2 separate regions of the Homo sapiens genome follow, and region 1 is linked to region 2. Evidence: fine-mapped expression QTL. Tissue or cell type: whole blood. Region 2 holds a variant in brackets; the other region holds the start of a gene. All regions are shown on one strand. Distances are from middle to middle.

The links. PIP is the estimated chance that this variant, and not a neighbour inherited with it, causes the effect.
Region 1: it holds the start of BAZ2B-AS1, and the variant in region 2 is fine-mapped to the expression of BAZ2B-AS1 in whole blood (INTERVAL, PIP above 0.99).

What each region holds. Positions count from the first base shown.
Region 1 is chr2:159,612,244-159,621,414 of GRCh38, reverse strand. BAZ2B-AS1 (BAZ2B antisense RNA 1) reads right to left here and starts at 6,121. Exons shown (of 2, transcript NR_110588.1): 1 at 5,962-6,121; 2 at 3,373-5,665. It overlaps BAZ2B (bromodomain adjacent to zinc finger domain 2B), which reads left to right and starts at 4,867. Exons shown (of 37, transcript NM_013450.4): 1 at 4,867-5,173. RefSeq lists enhancers at 4,778-4,847, 5,098-5,177, 4,805-5,331, 6,388-6,916.
Region 2 is chr2:159,644,482-159,655,113 of GRCh38, reverse strand. It overlaps a transcript of BAZ2B not described here. Among named protein-coding and RNA genes, the nearest start is that of BAZ2B, 33 kb to the right of the region's middle. The variant A/G (reference allele first, on the strand shown) is at 5,592.

The sequences.
Region 1 (9,171 bases), 33 kb after region 2:
AAATTTGTGCTTACAGCCGTGTTCTTAATCAGGGATGTTTATCAGAAGCGTCTTTAGAGTTGAAGAAGAAAAGAAATACTTGACCCCCCACCCAGACATGGTGAATTCTGGACGTTGGGGACATTTGAATTCACATAGTGAATTCTGGACACTGGGGACAATTCTAGATATTTAAAACAATCTCTACAGTTGATTCTGATAATCCCATTTTTAAAAGAGGCCTATAAAGCGTCATAGCCAGGTTTTAATTCCAGACTACTTTATGATTTGTTTTCCCTTATGTATTCTGGCCCATAGTTAATGACTGCAGCAACTACTGTAAGCCAGAAATTTCTCTAGTCCTCTTTCACTCCTTCCTCTTCCTTAATTCTATTTTCAGTTAGTCACCAAACTGAAATTTTACCTCAGAAATATCTGGCTGTAAATCTCCAATGCCACTGTCTCTACCATCATTCTTACGGACTGTTAAGCAATCTCTTAATACTACAGTCTATCATTTGCACTGCCTATACAGTTACTGTTCCCTCAAAACAAGGTCAATCATGCCACTCCTTTGCTAGCCTTTGTTGGCTCTTGTGATAAATTCAACCACCTTACCATGGTACTTAGGCCTTTTACTGTCAGGTCCCAGCCTTCATCTTGGTCATGACATCCCTATCATTCCTTTATCTCTGTCCTTCCCCATACTGAATATTCCCGCATACAGAATTTCTCACTAGTGGATGGACACCAGATCTAGTATCTCTGCATATTTACACTTGTTGTTTCTTTCACTTAGAAGACCACCTCCCACCCCGAACTTCTTTGCCTGGTAAGCTCTCAGTATTTGAGATGCAGTTCAAATAACATCTCTTTGATAAAGCCTTTTCTAGTCTCTCAGTGAGAATTAGTTGCCTCATCCTCTTTATTCTCACAAAACTTTATTATTTGTATCTTTATAATGTGATTTATATGAGTCTCTAATCTCCCAGGCATTTCACACTTTGTACATCAACCAGAATGTGAGCTTTTCATGTTTTTCCAGCCTCTAGCATAGCGCGTAGCATATAGCAAGCACTCAAATGTTTGTTCAATGAATGAAAACAAATAAAGCTTCATTAGGCTGTAATGATTGAAACAGAAACAAGATATAACAGTGGCCAGCTTGTTATACTGTTGAGATCTCTCGTTTGTTTTTCTTTGTAGTCAGCCTTCCTAGACTTCATTCTCTGTACATAGCAATTTCTTACTCTTTGAGGAACCATCTACAATACCCATAGTAGTAAGTTAGATAGCCATCCAACTCTATATCTACCTATTTAAGAAGTTCTGTCTTTGTCGTAAAAACAGATGCTGCTTTACAGAAGAAAGTGCAACAATTTAGTCCATATTGGTGGCATAGTCTGTGGGATAGGTAAATAGGTATAGAATTTCAGAGTTAATTATTCACTAAAATTGGAAAAGATCTGCTTGATCATTAAATTCTATCACAATTATGTACATGATGAAGCACTAATACAGATGATGATCTTGGGTAGAAGACGAAGTCCTGTTGGGAGTTAAATTATTTTATAACTATAGCAACTATTTTATCTGAAGTTTTCCCCCTCAACTGTATGATTATGTTATAATCTCTGAAATGATAAAGTATGATAACATGAAAAAGGGAAGGAATCATATTTTAAAAATAATTTAAGCACAATTTCTTAGTAAGAAGGTATCAAATACTTGGAGTAATCCAGTTTAAAATTTCTAGGAAATCATTTTTTTTTAAGAAGAATCAGTTTAAAAATACAGATTAAATTGAATAATTTTAATTTGTATATCTGAATTACCAAATAACATTAAATAATTTTAAATATATATTTTAATATAAAATTAAAGTTTTTATTATTTTTATTGAAATAGAGAAATATATTTATGAATTTGAGATACCTATGTCAGTCTTTCATTTAGCAACTATTTTGTTAATTATTGATTTCCATATAACTTCACCATTGGGAATGTCACATATTTCCTGAAGTATATAACGAGCCCTTCATAATAAAAATATATTTTAAAATGTCTTTAGAAGACATTAAAATCAAGGTTTTCACTGTCACCCCTTTTCCCCTTTTTTCCAACCTTTTGATGATGATAAGATGTATTTTGTTATAAGTTACTTCCTTGTGCAATCAAGTAAAAGACAACTTTGGGTTGTATATGGCTCCAGCTTGAAATTGCATATACATATTCTTATAAAAATTTTTGAATTATGATTCTAAAATTACTCAGGGGAATGACTGGAGTTTTTATATAGTAGTTAATCACTTTCATTACATATATTGTTTTTTCTGTAGATTAGACATATTTCCACAATTTAAATTAATGAATTTTATTACTTTAAATTATTTTTTTTCACAGGTTTCTTTTCTAAAATCCAGGCAATGTAAATTACATATCATTATGAAACCATTGTTTGGGAAACCAGTGTGGCATCTGCAATCCCAATATTTCAAAATATTATTGGAACCAAAAATTGAACCATGCTTTGCAGTATATTGTTTGAAGTATTTAAGCAAAGGATGTATTCTTAATTATTCGAGTTACAGTGTGCCACTTAACTTTATTTCAAGCGAGGTATATTTTGGGAGAATTCTTTATGAAAATCAAGATAACTTGAATCTAGCACTTTTTCCTTATCTTTTCAAAATTAAATATTTTCAACAGTAATGCTAATGATTAGGTAAAGTGTCAGTAATAGATTGTTAAAACATTAATATTCAATACTTTACGCATAGAAATATCAGTGTATTCCATTTTTTAGTTCCACATACTTAAAAATATTATTTATTTAATGACCACCATTATAGAACAATGCATTAACTTTTTTGTATGTGACTTGGGATAGAAGTCTTAGATACTAAGTGCATTCATACTTATATTTTAATCTATATTTTTCTTCTGGAACATTATTAGTAAATTTTGAGATTATAGAACTGTTGACCCAGTCATACATGTACAGAGCTTGGCCTCCGAGTTAATTAAATATGAGTTAATAATATATTATAAGGAAATTATTGTCCTTATTACAGTTATTAGGTAGTTACTCAAATTATAGCTTGAAAGGAATGCAGAGCATGGAAAACTCAGGATTAAATTATGCATTTGAACCTTAGGCCAGTTTTTACTGTAGAGACAGTTTGCTGCTAAAAGAGAAATTGTATGTCATTGAAATTAAATGCTTTTCTGGGGATGGAAGATTCCAGTTTTTAATGAAATTACTGAGTGTGGTGTAGTGAAATGATTAAAATCTGTATTCCGGGAATGTGGCAGGGAAAAAAAATCAATAAGTGCTAGCACAGCTTTGCTGCTCAATGTGAATCCTGAGAATGAAATAAACTACTACAAAAATAATAATTAAAAACATATCAGCACATTAATTTATTTAGCATCAGTCTCCTGAGACATCATCTTCACTAATTTTTAGCATACATTTTACTCTGTAATGAGCAGCCTTCTTTTCAGATATCCCTATTAGACAGGCAGTATTTCTGCCCTTCCCCCAGTGCTCCTGCATTGCAATCATTGTACTTGCACTTATTATGTTACAAATGACCGAGGTAAGGCTGACATTCTCAGTGCATGCAAAAAGACCGAGTCTGCCAAGCTTTTTTTTTTTCCTAATGAAGCAGCTTTGTGAAATCTCCCCATGTGTTAATACTAATGAAGATCCTCCAGCACAATTAAAATCACAGCCAGTGGCTGAAGAGGAAACATAAAACAATAGCATCTTTTAAGATACATTTATCCACATATGTATAAAATATACATAGATGATCAAATTATTCTCCGATAGCTTAATTTTTACTTACTCTTCATCCTGAAAATTAAATTATGCAATTTTTAATTATATGAACTTTGAGACTTTCTTGTGTTCTGGAGGGAAAAAACGGTACCTCAACGAACTTCTAAAAAAAAAAATACGTATCTTCTTGGCTAATAAAGTGTTATCAAGATTAAGGCTTTTAAAAAAATTGTTTTTAGGAATCTATAGGATGGGGTGCGGGAGGGAATGGGGCCTATTGTATCTTTAGTTTAACTTGATTGGTTGCAGGATTTGGGAATTGGGGTTGGGGGAGTGGAAGGGTAAAAACAAAGTTGGAAGAGATTCTGGGGGTAGACCATAGCATATGACTGCATTTGTAGTTTAAAGGAGCAAAGGGCTACCAGTCTTACTCATAACTTGATTTTTAAAAAGTGTTCAGTGCCTACAATTTGCTATGCTTTTTTTCTAATCTCTCAGAAACTTGAAAAAAAGCTATCGAGATTACCTTTTACAGTGTGTGCATATAACTTTAAAACGACTATTTTAACGTCTTTTATTTAAATTTTATTTTAACTTAGTGCATAAACATTACAGCCAGTTTAACTTGTCCGTGGAAAGGCAGTAGAATTTTACCCCGGGACCGTCTTGCATACTGCTTTTTTTGAGTTTTAACATCCGCAAAATCTTGGCATATTAATTTAGTTGGGTTGTAGAATTCTGAGTTTAGGAACAAAAAAAATTTAGGTGGAGATGGTTGACCTATGCTCCCTACTCTGTAGCTTTTGTTTTTTTAAAAACTAAGTTTTAAATCCCGTTTTCTGTCCTGTCTTCTTTAAAAGCAAAACAAAACATTTTAAGTTTCTTAACTTTTTCCTGGGACAAGGAACGGTGCAAACTCAAAGCTACAGTATTCTTGGAAAGAAGAAGCAACCCCCTCCCTTGGCTCCTTTAGGAGCTGATAGGTCATTTATTATTGGAACTGAAATGGTATAAACAATTCTCTCTCTTTTTTTCCCTTGTTAACAGCAACTTTCATTGTTAGAGAGAGGAGAGAGAGAGAAGCCTTGTTGGTTGACGTCACTTGGTTCATGAAGCCTTCGCCTAGAAGTGAAGCTGCTGAACAAACCTTGAGAAGAATCATCTCCTGCTTCAATCTGCTGCTGGATAGGAACTAATCAGAGAGAGAGAGGCGGAAGACGGAGAAGGAGGGAGTCGAAGGCTTTCCCGATCACAAATCTCACCTCCACTACAACTCTCTTTATACTTTTCTTGCAGAAATAATAATAGAAATAAGGAGGTGGTGGGGTTTCCAAAAATCTTAACCTTCAACCATCTGGGGAAAAGGCAAAAATCCCATCTACCGCAACTCTCAGTTCGAGAGTAAAGGTGAGTTTAAAATCCTCGGGCGTGAGGGGTGCGGGTGAGGATGTAAATTCCCAGTGTTACAAAGCCGGTGGAAACAGCAGCGGAGAAACTGCGCTCGGGCAAGCGGGGGACTCCGGAGTTGCTGCGTGGAGGCGCTCGCCCCGCCGCCCTCTCGCCCTCCGCCGCTGTTTATCCTCGCCGGTCGGTGCGGCTCTTTGTTGTGGTGGCCGGAAGGCTGGGGTGGTTCTCGGGGTCCCGAGTGGAGTTTGGGGGAGGAGGACACGGAGATGTGCCGTCCTGGGTGGGAGGTGGGGGGTGCGGCCTCAGGAGAACGTAAACTTTATTCCTAGAAGCCGGTGCGGGACTTCGCTGGAGTAGGGCCGTGGGTTGTGCTCCCGGCCGGGCAGGCGCTGCCGCCGCGAGTCCGCCGCCTTTGTGCCGGCCGCCCTGGCTTCGCGTCTCCTTCCTCTTCCCCTTCGGCTTCCAGCGCTCAGGTCGCCGCCAACAGTTTTGCTTCTTAAAAAACAACCTCTGTCAGCGTTGCGATGGCCGTTCCTACCCCGGAATATCCGCTGCTCCCCCACTCCCTGCCGGGGTAGTTTCTGGATCACCCCCCACCCCCGTCCGCCTCCTGCTGCCCTTTTTTGCCTCCGCCCCCTCTTCCCTGTCGGACTGACGAGCTGCGTCTGCCACCCCCACTCCCCGGCTTGGGCCTCTAGCTCTCCCGTGTGTAGCTGGAGGCTCTGAGTTTACTGAAGATGAGCGGGGGTGGGGGTGGGGCAGGTGGGATTGGGAAAAGATCTGGATACCTGGGAAGGTCTATGTCAGCACGCAGAAGGTTTGAGGAGCATTGCTTCTCATACAGTAAGGTCTGTGCCTTGGTCTCATGTTTTAGCAGTTCTTCCCCGGGAACGACCGCCAGCTCCCAACTCCTCTGCTTCCCTCTTTTAATCTTCTTGTCGCTACCCCTCCCCCCAGCCCCCGTTCTCTTTCGCGGCTCCCTCCCCTTTAAGTAGTTTCACGAACCCCAGAATTGGGATTTGAGAAGGGGAAGGAAGTGTTTGAAGAGTCAGAGCTGGCTCTGTTGTTTGGGAGATTTTCTCTTCTTTTCTTTCTCCCTCTGTATTTATCTTTTGTCTGTTGCTTCCTTATAAAGAGGGAAGCAGCTGCAGTCCTTGGCCGAGTTGTTGAAATTTATCCCTTTGTGTATATTACAATATCCTCCATTTTTTTTCCTGCCCTCTAAACAACAAGCGTTTCGCCATCTTGGGCAATTTTATTCCCAAGTCTCTCTCTTTTTTATTTTTGAGGAAAGGAAAGAAGTATTAGGAAGTGTGTCTGGATAAGTCTCAAAGTTTAGGGAATGTTCAGGGGGCCCAGTGACGTCATGTAAACTTTACGGAGAAATTTTCCCAAGAGTAAATTTTTTGCTTAATTTTTCTCCTGTTTTATAGGATTGTGTAACTTACAGGTTACTGATAAGTTGTGTGGCTTATTTTTGTGTTTTGCTCTCAAAATCAGTATACGAAGTCTGCGTATTGTATGTTTTGGTAACAGGTGGAAGATTATATGCAAAAAATGGTAAAAAACTTGTGCGTCATTTGTTATTTATCTGGTTTTTGTGTACTTTTTTTTTTAATTTAAAGGTTTCAACTGTTATCTGTAGTCAGTATATTCCCTTTCTTATTTGCTCCACTCTCCCTTATGGATTTTTTGAAAATTAGCTTGGTTAATATTTATGTATGGTTATTTTAGATTATCTGGCTCCCCGTTTCTAATAAAATGTTCTGGGGTTTTCTTTTTCTATTATTTATTTACATTTTGAAAAGAAATGACTATGGAAAATACCTTAAGATAATGGATACTTTAAAATTTAGTAGCAGATATTAAGTCAAACAATTATTGAGTATTTAAGAGGCAGAATTGATTTTAAAAGTTATTTTATAATCGCTAGCTATAAACTCTTTGTCAGCCATTATGAACAGATAAACAAAAACTAGCACTGTTTTAATTTGCTTGTCTAACATAGTTTTTCGCCTCACAAAAGTTGGTTTGGTCACATGACCAAGCTTAATGATACACTGACTAGTATATAAATAAGAGGCACTGTATATTGAATGGGAAAGTGGAATTCTGTCTCCTGTAGTCATTTTCAGTCAGCATATTTACATCTCTTCTAACAAGGACATGAAACTGTCTGTATTTAATTTGCATTCTCTTTGTCTTCTGGGTTGAGGGAAAAACACTGACTACAATTAACTTAAAAAAAGCTAATAGAAACAATTCTGAATACATTGAAAAGGTTTGTGTAACACACAGAAATTTATGTTCTATATGGTAAGTTTTTATTTCTGTAGCAGTCTTCTTTGGTGTTATCTATTTATCCAGGAATTTGCTTCATGTAATATGCTATATAGAAAGCTTGACTGAGTTGAGTGTCTGCCATTTATGTGAATTGTAGGTAGGTGAAAAATGTTTAAATAGTTAAAAGCACATAGAACAGATGGTTCTAAATTATACATGCAACAAAGGACTAGAAGATTTGGCAGATTATAAATGGCAAGCAACAGAGGATAAGCAGTTTAAGAAAATGGTAGTTAAGTACATTTGATGTCTCACACCTATTGTAAACACTGTACATATTATTGTCACTCTGCTGCATAATCAGTAATTTGGACAACATTAAGACACTCGTATGGTTCAGATAGAAAAAAGTAATTTTTACAAGTATTTGAAACAAGTGGTTGAATTTAAAATTATTTTAAGCCTACGATGATGAAGAGTCTTTTTTTTTTTTTTTTTTAGAAAATCAGATTGTATGCTTTAAAAATACAAAGTTATTTATGAGAACTTAATATTGTGTTCTTATAATGGTTGGAGAGAAACAGGAATGGGTACATATTTTAAAATCCAGATAATAGTAGCTTCACTGTTCTCACATGTTAAACTAGTGCCGAATTGTAGTACCATTTACTCTTACAAACACTAATGAAAAAATACTTCTAAACTCTTCAGTCTTGGAAATGCATTTATTGGAATACTGCTGGCATCATTTATGAAATACTTATTAAATGAAGGAAGGATATATTTTAGTTTTAATTTTTGAGTTTTATACATAACATTATGATACTGATTTTACTTGAATATTGTTTATTTACAATTTTTAGAATAGATGGATTCTTATGCAGGTTTTTTCTTTCTAGAACAGTCTCTGAGTAATTATATTTAGCATTTTCAAAAAATTGGGAATAGCTTAAAGTATTCAACTTGGTAGAAATTTGTTTTTATTTTTTATAAGCCATTCATTTAAAATGCACATAAGACTGTAATGGAAACCTTAGAATTTTAATTCTGTTGCCCTTTCTCCCATTTCTTTGTTTGCATGTTTATTATAGAACTGCAGTGTAAAGGAGCAGATGTTTTGCCAAACATCCTGATGTGTTGCTTTTTCTTATGGGAGTGCATAACTGTTCCTTCTGATGCATCAACTTGACAGCTGGTTGATTTCATGGAGCTGCTAAGAAGCCATTAGTGGTGTCATTGAATTGAAACAGAACAGTCATTCCCAGCTTGAACTGCAATTGTTAATGTCTTTGTTGCTACTTTTGTGTTACTATACAAGATGTAGGATATCACAGTTGCATGAAAGTTCAGGATTTCTGTCTTATCTCCTTGAATTAGTGAAAGTATATTTTGGAACTTGATTACTTTTAGGTTTAAAGGTTTCTCAGAGAAGGGATCTTAAGTTGTAGTTTCTGAGTAGAACTACCAAAAGAAGAGATATGATTTAGCACAAATTAATATGGTGATTTTGACCCTTAAGAGGAATTACGTCATCAAGTTTTAGTGATTATTAATATATTTGATTTCCTGGGGGATTAATTAAGTTACCTAGTTAGGTATTTTAAGAGTTTTTTTGGTTACATAAAATTAAGTATTTTTTACCATGAAGTTTTAAAAATACTGTTGCCTTTTTAATAAATGTTAATCCATTTGGCTGTTTCTTTAAACTTTTGTTC
Region 2 (10,632 bases):
TTTGTTATTTTCCATTAGCCAATTCCTTACACTGTACTAATTGCCTTTGAATTCATGTTATCATTTTATTTTAATTCCTCTCTTTGACTTTCCTGTTGCATCTTCTTTGAAATAACCAAGCACATGAAAAATAAATGTTTATATTTTCCTCAGAGGAAACTATTTACAGAATATATGCTATTTTACATGTCTTTTTACCTTTTATCTCTGCTCACTATAGCTTCCGCCTCCCAGGCTCAAGCGATTCTCCTGCCTCAGCCTCCCAAGTTACAGGCATGCATCACCATGCCCAGCTAATTTTTGTATTTTTTTGTGGAGATGGGGTTTCACCATGTTGCCCAGGCTGGTCTTGAAGCCCTGAGCTCAAGTGATCCACCTCCCAAAGTGCAGGAATTACAGGTGTGAGCCACCATGCCCGGCCTGTAGTTTCTTTTCAAAACACTCTTCTTTTCTTTTCTTTCTTTTTTTCCTACATACTTAGTAAGTTCTTCTGGCATTTTTTTCAATAGAGAGCATTGAAGAAGAAAACTTATACTTCCTCACTTTCATATTAAACTGCTAGCAAATTGTGCTCTTAGTGCTACCTTAGAAGGCAGGTTTCTACCTCTCTCTGCAATACTTGTTGACATTTATCTTAAATGGATCTTGTTGGCCCTTCTTGGGGTTTTTTTGTCTTGGATTCTCTGTCTAAATTAGTCAGATCTCAGTTCACAATGCTTTGATAATATGTGATATATTCAAGCCTATCTTTCCATCCTTTGTCTACTACCAACATATATATTTCAACCCTGTGCTCCTGCTTCTTTATGTGTTACATGCTGGGAGTTATAAACTCTGTAGATATAACAAAGAAAAGAGGCTATGGTGGAATCTTTGGCAGGCTTCTCATTCTGGTTTCCTCAGAATATTACTCCGTGCAGTTGGGAAACGGCTATCTTTTTATTGATCAATATATTACAACATGTAATGAGAGTTGAGTTCTTTTCCTGCCTATGTTAGTCCAAGCTGCTCTTGTTGATAGAATATATTTCTGATTGCATTCCCACTATTATAACAGGAAAAATTCCACTAAGATTTTGGCTTATTGTTGTTTAAAGCTCCTGTACTCTTTTTTGGGGGTTAACTTCCAAGTCTACTTAATGCTTTTTTATATTCCAGTGAATCTTTTAAATGTGGAAGAATTTGAGATTATCTAGTAGAATTTCCTATTTGATGAAGATATGGTACAGAGGTTAAATTAGTATTCTATAGGCTCAACCAAATATTGTAAGATACAAGCACATTTTCTGATTACTAGTCCATTGCCCTTGCCATTGTTTCATGTTAAATCTTTTATTATTTGAGTTTGTCAATAATTCCATTAGAAGGAACACTAATATAGAAGTCAGCATATCTAGATTTTAGTGACAACCATGTCAATAATTAGCTAAATGATTTTAGAAGTCACTGAACCTTATGTGTAATTACATCACGTATCATATAAGCCAGAAGATCCAGGTTTTCTTTAGGATCTTTTTCACTTGTAAAATTCAATTTCAAGTTGTTTTGATTTCTAGGGTGCCGAGCAAAGACTATCTCAAGTTTTGTTTAGAGGTACTAGGTAACACAAAACCTATACTATACGATTCTTTCCAACTCTTTTTCTTTGATATATTCTATTGAAAGAATTATAGAATATCTGGGTCAGCTGCATATGTGAGGTTGGGTATACATTTGAACAAATTCCAAAATACTTTAATAGAATAAATGTTGTAGAAATGATTTTTTAAAAAGAATAGTAATATCACGTGTTTATTGAATATTTGTTAGGTAAAATTCTTACAGAATTTTTAATAAAAAGGTGCTGTGGGAGGTTAATTAAAAAGGACACTTGGTGCCAGGTGTGGTGGCTCACGCCTATAATCCCAGCACTTTGGGAGGCCAAGGCGGGTGGATCACTTGAGGTCAGGAGTCAAGACTAGCCTGGCCAACATGGTGAAACCCTGTCTCTACCAAAAAGTATAAAAAAATTAGCCAAGTATGGTGGCGTGCGCCTGTAATCCCAGTTACTTGGGAGGCTGAGGCAGGAGAATCACTTGAACCCAGGAGGAAGAGGTTGCAGTGAGTTGAGATGGCACCCCTGCACTCCAGCCTGTGTGACAGAGTGAGACTCCACCTCAAAAAAAAAATAAAAATAAAAATAAAAAAGGACATTTGGGTCAGGCACAGTGGCTCATGCCTGTAATTCCAGCACTTTAGGAGGCCAAGATAGGAGAATTGCTTGAGCCTAGGAGTTTGAGACCAGCCTGGGCTACAGAGTGAGACCCCATCTCTACAAAAACCAAAAAAATTAGCCAGGCATGGTACCACACACCTGTAGTTCCAACTTCTTGGGAGGCCGAGGCAGGAGGATCACTTGACCCAGGAGGTTAGGGCTGTTAGTAAATCGTGTTTATACCACTCAACAATGCATGAAGCCTTTGGGCAATAGAGCAAGATACTGTCTCAAAAAAAAATATTTCTTGCATGCTCAACATCATTAATTATAGGGAAACGCAAATCAGAACCACAATGAGATGCCACTTTGTGCCCACTAGATTGGCTGTAATCAAAATGATAGACAGTGGCCAGGCGCGGTGGCTCACGCCTGTAATCTCAGCACTTTAGGAGGCCGAGGTGGGTGGATCACCTGAGGTTAGGAGTTTGAGACTAGCCTGGCCAACATGATGAAACCCTGTCTCTATTAAAAAATACAAAATTAGCCAGGTGTTGTGGCACGCGCCTATAATCTCAGCTATATGGGAGGGTGAGGCAGGAGAATCACTTGAATCCGGGAGGTGGAGGTTGCAGTGAGCCAAGACCATGCCATTGCACTCCAGCCTGGGCAACAAGAGCAAAACTCCATCTCAAAAAAAAAAAAAAAGAGAGTAACAAGTGATGGTAAAGATGGAGAGAAATTAGCATCCCTGTACATTGCTGGGGAGAAAGTAAAATTGTATAGCCAGTTTGGAAAGCAGTCTGTCAGTTCCTGAGAAAATTATAGTTATTATATGACTCAGCAATTTTACTTCTAGGTATATACCCAAAAGAGTGGAATAAATACATTTTCACACAAAAAACGTGTATATGAATGTTTATAGCAGTATTATTCATAATAGCTCAAAATTTGAAACAATTTATTCACTAATAGATGAATGGAAAAATAAAATGTGATCTATTCATATAATGAAATATTATTCAGCAATGAAGCAGAATGAGGTACCAATAAATGCTACAATATGGATCAACCCTGAAAACTTATGCTATGTGAAAGGAGCTAGTCACAAAAGACCACATATTTTATGGCTCCATTTATATAAAATATGTGGAATAGGCAAAGTCCACATATTTTTCAGAAACTGGGGGAAGAGGGGAGTCAGTAGTGATGGGTAATGGGTGTGGGGTAACTTTTGTGGGTGATGAAAATCTGTAGTGATGGTTGTACAAATTTGTGACTAAAAAGCACTAAATTATATATTTCAAAGGGGTAAGTTTTATGGTAAATGAATTATATTTCAATAATGTTTTAAAACCTCAAAAAATTATATCTTCCTACCAATCCTGACATAGTTGACCCCATGAATGTACTCTTGAAAACATAATAAATGAAAACCTACACTACTGCCAAAGATTAAGATTGGCAGAAAAGTGATTATGAGAATATACAAGGTTTTTTCACTAACACTAAGGAGAGAGCCGGGATGAGAAAAAACATAAAGCACATACTTTTCCTCATAAAATAAAATCAGTTCTGGTCCTTGAAAAAGAGAGAAACTTTTTCTCCTACTATTAACTCCCCTTGATTGAAATGAGGTTTGTAATAATCAGAAGGCTCTATAGCCATCTCATTACTTGTTTTTAAGATGGCCATAATACTGTACCAACCCATTTCTATTTTTTTCTATATTCACAATGTAAGAGTAATGGTAAAATAAGTGCATTGCAATTCTTGGATATATGATTCCCCACATAAGTGAGGAAAGAAAGTATCTTGATAACATTATGTGCTGGAGATTATAATCACAATGTTTTTTTAAGGAATTTTAAGGCTAGTTAATAAAAGGAATTTTTATCAATTAAAAATAAACGAATAGGATCTTATATTTCTAGATGAGATGGAGTAACTGGACAAAATTTAACCTGCTGCCTGAAATAATAGGAATATGTGAAACAAGTGGTTTTTAAGACATTGGGCATTGGGCAACAAAGGACATTGTTTGCTGAGAGACATTAATCAAACAAGGTTGGCCCTATTATGGTCTCAGCTTACTGCTGTGAGAGACTTTCCAGGCTCTGTCACACAAAAGAGGAACAGAGGTAAGCACTCAAAGACTCATGACTTGAGGAGACATTGATGATAGTCTGTAGAGACCAAGGTCACTAGATATCACAGGGTGCAGTACTGAAGTGGTGAGAGTCACTACAAGAACTCCAGAGATCTGCAGAAGATCCTTGTCATGTTTACAGTAGAGTACTAATCAGTATATGAATATGAGGGAGCTACCCAAGGCTAGGAAAAGAACCACTGAAAAGGTTTAGAAGAGGGAAGACTGTACGCAGTTCTCACAGGAATAGGAATAGTGCCTTTTGCCACCTACCAGACTAGAAAACCTCACTATTTATGGGGCATTGGGTACAATGTTTTAAAAGATCTTGCATCAATAGTGTGGAATCCTTAGCCCTAAACTTAAATGGTCCTGTGGTTCTGTCTGACATATCTTAAAAGCAAGACCTGAAAGGATTAAATCGTTTCCAATTTAACTGCAACCCAGAAAAAAAGCCCAGGAATCTTTATAGTAATACAAACATGTTCAGCACCTCACAAGATAAAATTCACAATATATGACACCCAGTAAAAAAAACTAGCAGGCATGGAAACAAGCAAAAAAAAAAAAAGACTAAAATTGTAAAATTGATGGATAAGGATACCAAAACTTCTTATAAGTGTATTCTGTATGTAAGATAAAGCTGGAGAAAAGATCAAACATGTTAAGTAAAAAAATGAATAATATAGAAGAAATCCAAAACAAACTTCTGGTGCTGATAACTATAATGTCTGAGATGGAAAACACAAGAGATGGGATTAACTAGAGGACATATCTTGTAGAAGAAAAAGATTGGTGAATTTGAAGAAATTACAATAGAAAACATTCAAAGGAAGGCATAAAGAGAAGAATTAATTATTAAAAAATGAATAGAACAGCACTAAGCTGTGGGACACCTTCATAAATAACAGATGTGCATCACTTGTATTCAACTATAAATATAGCATAATATATTTGTAATGGGACCCCTTTAAGGAAGGGAAGGCAGAAAAAAATCATAGCTGAGTTTTTCCAAATTTGATGATAGCTTTAAACCCAGAAACTGAAGAAACTCAAACCAAAAACCAAGAAACATGAAGAAAACTACGTCAGTGTAGGTCACCATCAAATTGTTCACAAATAGTAATAAGAGAAAATCTTGAAAGCAGCTTGAGGAAAAAAAAGACATATGACCTACAGCAGGGGTCCCCAACCCCTGGGCCATGGACTGGTACCAGTTGTGGTCTGTGACCTGTTAGGAACTGGGCC[A/G]CACAGCAGGAGGTGAGTGGTGGGCAAGAGAAGCTTCATCTGTATTTACAGCCACTCCCCAACACTCATACTACTGCCTGAGCTCCACCTCCTGTCAGATCAGTGGTAGCATTAGATTCTCACAGGAACACAAACCCTATTGTGAACTGTGTATGTGAGGGATCTAGGTTGTGCACTTCTTATGAGAATCTAATGCCTGATGATCTGTCAGTGTCTCCCATCACCCCCAGATGGGACCATCTAGTTGCAGGAAAACAAGCTCAGGGCTCCCCTCATTCTACATTATGGTGAGCTGTATAGGCCTTGTATCCAAAATGTATAAAGAACTTCCAAAACTCAATAATAAGAAAACATATAACACAGTTTTTAAAATGGCCAACGAGTTGAACAGACATTTCACCAAAAAATATAAAAGGGTGGCAAATAAACATATAAAAATGCTCAACATCATTAGTAATTAGAGAAATGCAAATTAATATCACAACCAGATAACACCACACACCTATTAGAATGACTAAAATTTAAAAAACAAACTACCCCCTCATTTTGGCTAGGGATGTGGGATATGTGGAGTACTTATTCACTGTTGGTGGGAATGTAAAATGTTATAGCCACTTTGGTAAACAGTTTGGCAGTTTTTTAAAAAAATTGAATACATACCTACCATATGATCCAGCTATTCCACTCCTTGGTATATACCCAGGAGATGTAATGACATAAGTCTGTGTAAAATTTCTTATATAAACGTTCATAGCAACATGATTTGTAATAGCTAAAAGGTAGAAAAAAATCTAAATATTAACCCAAGAGTAGGTAAATAAAACCTGATATCTGTATAATGAAATACAATTTAGCAATAAAAGAGAACGAACAATTTAAACATGCAAACAATGAGTGAATCTGAAAATTATACTGAATGGAAGAAGCCAGACAAAAAAGAATACATAGTATATGATCTTATTTATATGAACTTCCAAAAATGCAAAGTAATCTATTGTGATTGAAAGCAAATCAGTCATTGCCTGGGATCCATGGAGTTGGGTAACATGGAAGAGTGGGGGGAAGCACTATAAAGGAGCAAGAGGGGCTGAAGGCAGTGGCTCACACCTGTAATCCCAGCACTTTGGGAGGCTGAGGCAGGTGGATTAGTTGAGGTCAGGAGTTTGAGACCAGCCTAAGCAACATGCTGAAACCCCATCTCTACTAAAAATACAAAAATTAGCTGGGCATGGTGGCATGTGCGTGTAACCCCAGCTACTTGGGAGGCTGAGGCAGGAGAATCTCTTAAACCTGGGAAGTGGAGGTTGCAGTGAGCCAAGATCATGCTGCTGCATTCCAGCCTGGATGACAGAGTGAGACTCTTTCTCAAAAAATAAATAAATAAATAAATAAACAAACAAATAGTGGGAGAGGGCAAGAGGAAACTTTGGAGGTAAAGGATATATCCATAATCTTTACTATGTTAAGGTTTCCACAAGTATATACATACGTGTGACAAAATGATCTAATTATGCATTTTAAATATGTGCAATTTGTTGTATGCAAATTACAGTAAGTTCTCACTTTGCATGGTTCCAGTATGCAAAAATTTCAGTCAGCATACTTCAGTTAAATCTCATCCATCCCCTAGAAACCTTTAAATTTACCACAGAATATTTATTATGAATAATTGCATAAAGTAAAATGTTTGCTGCTAGCTCTTCAGTCCACACATCATTATAAATAACAGATGCATGGCATGATCAGTGACCCATCACATTACTTTTTCAAAGTCATCTGGTGATGATTTTTTTATTTTATTGGTCGTTGTTCAGTTCATGCACAGACAGCAAAGCATGTAGTTGTGTTGTCTTCTTGTCTCTCAGTAATAAATCTACATGACATTTTACCAAAATGAATAATCAAGGGAATTGGCTAACTGTGATGGTTAATTTTGTGTATCAATTAATCTGGGCCATGGGGTGCTCAGGTATTTGGTCAGTCATTATTCTGAGTGTGTCTCTGAGAGTGTTTTTATATGAAATGTACATTTGAATCAGTAGACTGAGTAAAGGAGATTGTTCTCCCTAATGTGGATGTGAATCAGTTGAAGTCCTGAATAGAACAAGAACGTTGATCCTACTGTGAGTAAGAGGAAACGACTCCTGCCTAACTATTGAGCTGGGAGACTGGACTTTTCTTGCCTTCAGACTTGAACTGAAACGTTGGCTCTTCTTGGGTCTTGAGTCTGCCAGCTTTCAGACTTAAACTATTGTCTCTCCTGGGTTTCCAATTTGCTGACTGTAGGTCTTGGGACTAATACATAATTGTATGGGTGAATTCCTTATAATAAATATCTTTATACATACATCCTTTTGGTTTTGTTTCTCTGGAGAATCCTGACTAATATAGATTTTGGATCCAAGGTGTGGGGTTCTCCTGTACAAATACCTAAAATGTGGAAATGACTTTGGGACTGGGTAAGTGTAGAGGCTGGAAGTTTTGATATGCATCCTAGAAATATATATGTTTAATGAATGATTGTGGTGAGGGCTCAGAGGGAAAACAGCAGAGCAGGAGAGAAAGCATCTATCTTTAAGAGAACACATAAATAATCATGAATAGAATGTTAGAATGGTAGAAATATGTATGTTAAAGGCCATTCTGGTAAGCTCTCAGATGTAAAAGAGGAACAGGTGGCAATCCTTGTTATAAAGGGGCAAAAATCTTGTTTGAATTATGTTCTAGTATTTTGCAGTAAGTAGAATTTTTAAGCCAGGGGTCCCCAACCCCTGGCTGCAGATTGGTATGAGCCCATGGCCTATTAGTGTTGCAGGAAGTCAGGGACCCCAAACAGAGGAACCAGCTGAAGCCATGGCAGAAGAACATAAATTGTGAAGATTTCATGGACATTTATTAGATCCCCAAATTAATACTTTTATAATTTCTTACACCTGTCTTTACTGCAATCTCTGAACATAAATTGTGAAGATTTCATGGATACTTATCACTTCCCCAATTAATACCCTTGTGATTTCTTATGCCTGTCTTTATTTTAATCTCTTAATCCTGTCATCTCATAAGCTGAGAAGGATGTATATTGCCTCAGGACCCTGTGATGATTGCATTAACTGCAAAAATTGTAGAGCATGTGTGTTTGAACAATATGAAATCTGGGCACCCTGAAAAAAGAACAGGATAACAGCAATGTTCAGGGAACAAGAGAGATAACCTTAAACTCTGACTGCCGGTGAGCCAGGCGGAACAGAGCCATATTTCTCTTCTTTCAAAAGCAAATGGGAGAAATATCACAGAATTCTTTTTCTCAGCAAGGAACATCCCTGAGAAAGAGAATGCGCCCCTGAGGGTGGGCCTCTAAAATGGCCCCCTTGGGTGTGGCCGTCTTCTATGGTCAAAACTGTAGGGATGAAATAAGCCCCAGTCTCCCATAGTGCTCTCAGGCTTATTAGGATGAGGAAATTCCCACCTAATAAATTTTGGTCAGACCCGTTGGTTGCTCTCAAACCTTGTCTCCTGGTAAGATGTTATCAATGACAATGGTGCCCGAAACTTCATTAGCAATTTTAAATTCACCCTGGTCCTGTGGTCCTGTGATCTTGCCCTGCCTCCATTTGCCTTGTGATATTCTATTACCTTGTGAAGTACATGATCTCTGTGACCCACACCCTATTCGTACACTCCCTCCCCTTTTGCAAATCCCTAATAAAAACTTGCTGGTTTTACAGCTCAGGGGGCATCATGGAACCTACCGACATGTGATGTCTCCCCCGGACACCCAGCTTTAAAATTTCTCTCTTTTGTACTCTGTCCCTTTATTTTTCAACCTGGCTGATGCTTAGAGAAAATAGAAAAGAACCTACGTGACTATCGGGGGCAGATTTCCCGATAATTAGGAACTGGGCCACACAAGCAGGAGGTAAGCAGCAGTTGAGTGAGCATTACCACCTGATCTCCACCTCCTGTCAGATCAGCAGTGACATTAGATTCTCAGAGGAATGTGAACCCTATTGTGAGCAGTGCATGGGAGGGATCTAGGTTGCACACTCCTTATGAGAATCTAACTAATGCCTGATGATCTGAGGTGGAACAGTTTCATTCTGAAACCATGGCACCCTCCCACCTTGCTCCATCTGTGGGAAAATTGTCTTCCACGAAACTGGTCCCTGGTGCCGAAAAGGTTAGGGACCACTATTTTAAGCAATGAAATTGGGTATTTAGCAGAGGTGATTTAAAAAAAAAAAAACTTTTTTTAGAGACAGGGCTCTTTCTGTCGCCCAGCCTGGAGTACAATGGCACCATCATAGCTCACTGCAACCTTTACCTCCCAGGCCCAAGTGATCCTCACACCTCAGCCTCCCGAGTAGCTGAGACTATAGGTGCATGCCACCATGCCTGGCTAATTTTATTGTTTGTAGAGACAAGTTTTCACCATGTTGCCCAGGCTGGTCTCGAACTCCTGGGCTCAAGCAATCCACCTGCCTTGGGCTCTCAAAATGCTGGGATTACACGTGTGAGCCACTGTGCCTGGCCCAGAGGTGATTTTTAAAGCCAAGTATTGAAAATATAGCATAGGTCCTCCTTACTACTTATAGTAAAATATGAGAGGCAAGAAATGAAAAAGGAATTATTAAGGAAAAAGTTTTCAGAAGATGGAGATTGGGAAAATTCTTAGCCTGTCCATACTGCACAAAACTTGTTCTGAAGAGAACACGAAGGGTGGTATGGCTGAAGAACCACTTGATAAAGAAATAGTGGGTGCGCCTCCTGGGTGTATTCGTCAATCTCAGCAGAAGCTAGGAATAGAAATGCAATTATAACAACAAAGACACTGCCAGTTTGAACTGAGGACAGAGAAAGACAAGACAGAATGAAGGAAGGCTTTCAGACTTCTTGAATTCTACTGGGCAGGAACGTAGAGCTGTTCAGCTGCAAATGTGCACTATTCTCAAGGAAAGGGAAGAATAACACCAAAGGTGATTCAGAAATCATGAGTGCTGCTACTACCAGCACTAGCCTAAGGGGCAAGACAGCTTCTTAGTTG